Linked DNA regions of Homo sapiens: region 2 is linked to region 1. Evidence: fine-mapped expression QTL. Tissue or cell type: whole blood. Region 1 holds a variant in brackets; the other region holds the start of a gene. All regions are shown on one strand. Distances are between the middles of the regions.

Region 1 (2,686 bases):
AATAAAAGGAGTTAAGTTTGAGCTGTATTTATTTTAGGGTGGCTTTTAATTTGGTTTAATCAGAATTACTCATAAATTATCGATTAATTACCTTCTGCTGTTCAGTTAAATCCTCTCAGCCACGGAGCCAGCTTCGCTGCGCAATGAATGCCATCCACCGTAATTATAGGGCACTTTGTCAGCATTTAATCAGCGGTACTTATTAATGTGGCATTGATGTGTGGTGGCCAGCCCCACGCTATCCATCATGGGTGAGCAGCCAGCACAGATTTGGACACCATTGCTCTCTGTCCCATTAGCCAGCCCCTGGGCTTTCGGGCCAAGCATCATGCTCGCTTTTCACTAAATGGACACTCTGTCTCTTCCATTCAATCCCATTTTTATCACTGTCGACTTAAACACTCATAAGCTTTTGAACTTCAGTCCAGAACGGCTGAGCAGGGCCTGACCACTTCTCCCAGTGAGTGTGAAATCCCAAGAGACTGGTCCGTGATCGGACATCATGGCATGGCGTGCATGTGTAAGAGAATTTTATATTCAACACAGCGTAGCACCCAGAGAACACAGAAGTGATCTTTTGGTTTTCTTTGGCTTACTGAATATTTTTGGAGATTCTTCTATTCCTGAAAGCTCTTCCAGTGAAAGCTATCTTGTGTTGGCAAAATAGATCTGATAGTGTCCTTTCTCTGTCTTTGCAGCCTCTACGGCAGACACATGCAGGCCAACCCAGAACCACCGAAGAAGAATAATGACAAATCGAAAAAGATCAGCCGGAAACCCCTGGCAGCCAAGAACAGATAAGGAAGGGATTGGCATCGGCTGGCCTTCCAGCACCTTCTCTCTCCAACACTTCATTCTCTCTTGCCCTGTCTCTCAAATAAACCCAATGCTGCGTGTGAGGCCTTTTTTATTTTTCTTTTCACTCTCTTTCTAATGCTTCCCACCTTACCTTTTAGATTCTTTTGCTAGGTGGGAGATTGTTATAAGGTCTTTAAACCATTTCCATTTGTTTCTTTAACATTACCAAAAGCAGGGAACAAAGCTCTTATTCAACTGCGAATTCCATAGTGGGCTCTGGCTTTTCTTGAATAGATATCACAAGGTTGCTTATTATCAAAAGAATAATTAAAATCATGTAACCATTTAAATGTCACTGTTAACACTTTTCACTCTTTCTGTTGATTCACCTAACTCATTATTTTGCTTTATTAAAAGTCTTCCTTCACCACCGAGATATGCTAATTTAACTTACAAATGATTTTAATAAAATCTTGAGTTTGT[A/G]TCACATGTTACTTATTGACTCAGAATAAAAGAACAGTCTGATCTTGGGGTATAACACATTTTCATTTACTTTTCTCCCCCAAAATCATCTTATCCAATTTTATTGGTTATACATGATAAACTTTTCATGAAAGAAATGCAAAATTAAATCACAGTTCGTTTCTTCTCACATTAATTTGTCAAGTTTTTTTTTTCTTTGAAGACTTTCTAAATTAGGAAGCAGAAAAACAAATCTCTAGGAGATTCTGCCAAAGGATTTTGGAAAGTAGCATTCCTTCGCCGAAGAAATGGTGATTTCTGCCAGGGGCTGGTAGACAAGAACTGTGAAAGAGAGAGAGAAAAAACCTCAACTGTGTATTTTGTCACGGCGGAAAATCTGCTCGCATCGAAGCATTCTTCTAAGCGACTTCGATGCCAAGGAAGTTGTGTAAATGTGCACGCGCTACACCACACCCAGGGTGGAAACCACAGTTGCAGAGTCATTAAACAATCAATTGTTTGTTTAACATCTGTGATAGGCAGCTTTCCTTCTTTTCAACAGTGATACCTACGAAAATCAAAATAAATGCAAGCTGAGGTTTTGTGCTCACTGAAAGGGCTGTCAACCCCAGAAGGCCGACACAAAAAAAATGGTATGTGAAGATGCACCGTCTTTTCAAATGGCCTGGGAGAGTCAAATGGCCTGGGAGAGGGGGCCTGCCCTTCTCTGCTGTGTCCTTTCGGCTTCCCAGTTGAGCTCCCAAGACCAGGACCCACTGGGGCATATAAAATCTCTGCTGTATCCTTTCGGCTTCCCAGTTGAGCTCCCAAGACCAGGACCCACTGGGGCATATAAAAAAGTCAAAAATCAAAATCAAACAACAAGTTCTGAGTTACTTAGGAAACAGACTTCGCATTTCAATCAGAGAGGCCACAGAGCAAGGTCTAAACTTCTGGCTTCTAGACAAATTCCTGATAGAACATTTAAATGTGGGAAGTGGCTTCCCCAGGTCCCATCCCCTGTTTAGGGATAGAGTTGATATCATTTTTATAGGTGCCATGTATGCCTCTGCCTGAATTTTTTTAATTGACTTTTGAGCTTTTGAGATTGCACGAGGGAGAACAAGGCCTTTGCTGTTGTGGATAGGAAAGACTTAACCTAAAATTAAACCAGCAAGAAAGCATTAGTAAAAATCTAACAATATGAAGGGCTCTTATGAGTCATTTTTTTCAAAAGATGAAAACTCCAGAAACGCACAGGAACGAAATACCTCCCAGAAACATGAAGCAATCATCGAAGACTCACTGGTAATATTTTTAAAAAGTATACAGATCAAAGCAAAAAGAAGCCATGTGTAACAAAGAGAAATGTGCAAATATTTTTTAAGGCAGTATTAAGTGCAAGAGGAGTAACATGAAATAAACA
Region 2 (2,686 bases), 220 kb before region 1:
CTGTACCTTGATATCATGCACTGGAAAAGACACATCGCTTTAGTGGTGTTTCTCCAAAAATTCATAACCTGAAAGGGAACATCAAACTTACTTTGAAGGATATTCCACACAATACCTGGTCTGTATTCTTAAATAATGTCTAGTTCAATAAACATAAAAGCCAAGGACGGTTCCAGATCAAAGAAGACTAATGGAGGAATAACTCTTTCATCTGGAATGTTTTTTAAGCAAGAAATACCTGCTTTCGAATTTAAGAGTGCAGATCCTTTTTTTATCCAATTGGTTCGGAGATATAATTACATTATTTTACCACATCTCCTTAAGGCTTTGATCCCTGCTACAATCTACAATATATAAATGCATATGTGTGGCATCCGTCTTATCATCAATTTAGGTGACCAGTAGAAGAAAAGTGCCTGGTGCCAATTTTTATTCCATAGTATAAAATAGTCTCTCAGGACAGGGTTTTTGGTGAGAGAAGCACAGGATGTTGCTGGGTGACTGAGACTGGGTCAGGAAATAGGGAGGCAGAGGGCAACAGTTTCTCTAGAATTTAAAATTTGGTTGCTTTTGGAAGAGAAAGCAAGAGATTCCTGGAAGCCAGAACGTCATGTTTCACAAATGTAAAAGTCCTAGTTGGGAAAGACACATCGCTTTAGTGGTGTTTTCAAATGACTTTTAAAATAGTAGGGTTTTACTTGTAGGTTCTAGCTACAAGTAAAAAGGCTAAAAGCCAGCCTTAGAAACCTGTCAAAAAAGATTTCCAGCAGGGCGCTGGGGAAACGCAGACCGCGCCGGAATCCCCGCCTGGAGAAGCTCTTAATAGGGCGGGAAACTGCGTGCCCCACAAGGTCCCTCAGAGGCACATTGTGGAGACGGGCTCAGGGTAGCAACTTCTGGCGAGTGGAGCGGCTATTACACAAGCGAAACATTCGGAAGCAATTTACTTCCAGCTTTCGCAACACCCACCCTGAGCCACCACCCTCCCTTACACAGTCACGCCACAAACTTCCCCACTTCCGCCCACAGCCCTCTGGGCTTCGACCCATCAACTGAGCTTGCGCCAAGTCTACTGCGCACGCGCCAACTTCGGCCCAATCAGCGTCCCAAACCGTGGGGTGGACGCCACCGGGATAAACTATCCTCAGCGTGGGGCGGGGTCTCGAAGCCGAATAACGAACGTGATTAGCCAGCCTCTTCCACAGACTTTTAAGGGCGGAGCCTGGCCCTGGAGACACGTCTGGAGAGCTGTTCTCCTAATATGGGTAGGGTCGGGCGTGGAGCTGGCAGCGGCGCTGTGTGCGCCTGCGCGGGGCGCCGAGACAGGGCGTGTTCGCTGTTCAGTGCCGGTGTTGCAGGGAGTGAGGGCAGCTGGAGTGCGTTCTGCCGAAGCTTGTGGTTGCACGCCCATCGTCTTAGGGGCTACCTTCCGTGGTGAGTGTGTGCGGTGTTGCACTTGGGGTTGCTTCTCGCTGCGTGGCCGCAGCGGGGCTGAACCCTTCCCACTCCATCCCCTCCCCGCACCCGGACCAGCCCCTGGGACGCCCTCGGACGCCCACCCGCTCCAACCCTGGGGAAGCCTCAGAGTGGCAGCGAAGGCCTCTTGCCTTTCCGCCTCTGCGCTTGCTGTCATCGCCCACGTGCTTTGTTGTTGTTCGGTGCAGACCATGTCCAAGTCTCTGAAGAAGTTGGTGGAGGAGAGCCGGGAGAAGAACCAGCCCGAGGTGGACATGAGTGACCGGGGCATCTCCAACATGCTGGATGTCAACGGCCTCTGTGAGTTCTCGGGCAGGACTCTCCCGTGGATGAGCTGGAAGGCTTTCTAAGTTTGCCAATTCACTGCTGGTCCTGCTGTGAGCGATTGTACTGGTTTAGACCCCAGCCCCTGCTTGTAAACCTCACTTGTCAGGGGCTTCGCGCAGAGGGTTTGCAGTAGGATTTGTTCTGTTCCACCTGGAAAACGATCCTGAGAGTCCACGATGAGAATCACACAGACAGCTGTGCCTCATCGGTTGTCTCTGCTGTATGGCATTGAGGTGGATTTTCCACAGTTTGCTTAATAGTCACTTTAATTATAAATTGAAAATTAATTTTGAGTCCTTCTTCCTGTCTCCTAATACAGTCTTTGTCCATGAACAAATGACACAGAAAAGTTCCATGGTTAATAAGCATTCTTGTGCCTGGAGCGTTTTAAGCATTTCTTGAATCTTTACATTCTTCTGAGTATTTATTCTCCGAACTTGGTTCAGGCTTTTGTCACCTCCTCATGCTGTGGTGAAATCCTCCTAACTTGCCCTCTTGCCTTCAGTTTCACTGCCCAGTTTAATCACTGGGTCACTTTCAGTGTCATTTTCCTGTAACCCCTGTCTATGGTGTTACCCTCTCCCTTAAAACCAGGGATTGCAGATTCACATGCCTCCAAGTGAGGGCGGTCAGGGGCGGTTATGAACTAGGTGATAGGTGTCCCACTTGAAGGGGCCAGCTGCTGCACCTGCTACTCAGACACATGTCACCATAGGAATGTTGGCCCAATGTGCCAGATTATTTTCTTAAAGGAACCAAGATTCTATATTTTTATGTGAAATTTGCTAATTTTTAGATGTTGGCTACTAATTCTAATATTTGAAAAACCTGTGATAAGTGAGCTAAAGCAGTTCTTCAGGCTGACGTGGCTTTGGTTTAAACC

What was found. PIP is the estimated chance that this variant, and not a neighbour inherited with it, causes the effect.
Region 2: it holds the start of RSU1, and the variant in region 1 is fine-mapped to the expression of RSU1 in whole blood (TOPMed, PIP 0.99).

The regions. Positions count from the first base shown.
Region 1 is chr10:16,591,509-16,594,194 of GRCh38, reverse strand. RSU1 (Ras suppressor protein 1) reads left to right here. Exons shown (of 9, transcript NM_012425.4): 9 at 699-2,686. The coding sequence ends at 801. Among named protein-coding and RNA genes, the nearest start is that of C1QL3, 71 kb to the right of the region's middle. The variant A/G (reference allele first, on the strand shown) is at 1,282.
Region 2 is chr10:16,816,063-16,818,748 of GRCh38, reverse strand. RSU1 (Ras suppressor protein 1) reads left to right here and starts at 1,325. Exons shown (of 9, transcript NM_012425.4): 1 at 1,325-1,434; 2 at 1,665-1,776. The coding sequence starts at 1,668. LOC105376435 (a long non-coding RNA gene) reads right to left here and starts at 1,050. Exons shown (of 3, transcript XR_930708.3): 1 at 993-1,050; 2 at 7-68. RefSeq lists enhancers at 707-756, 787-876, 907-1,016, 1,687-1,846.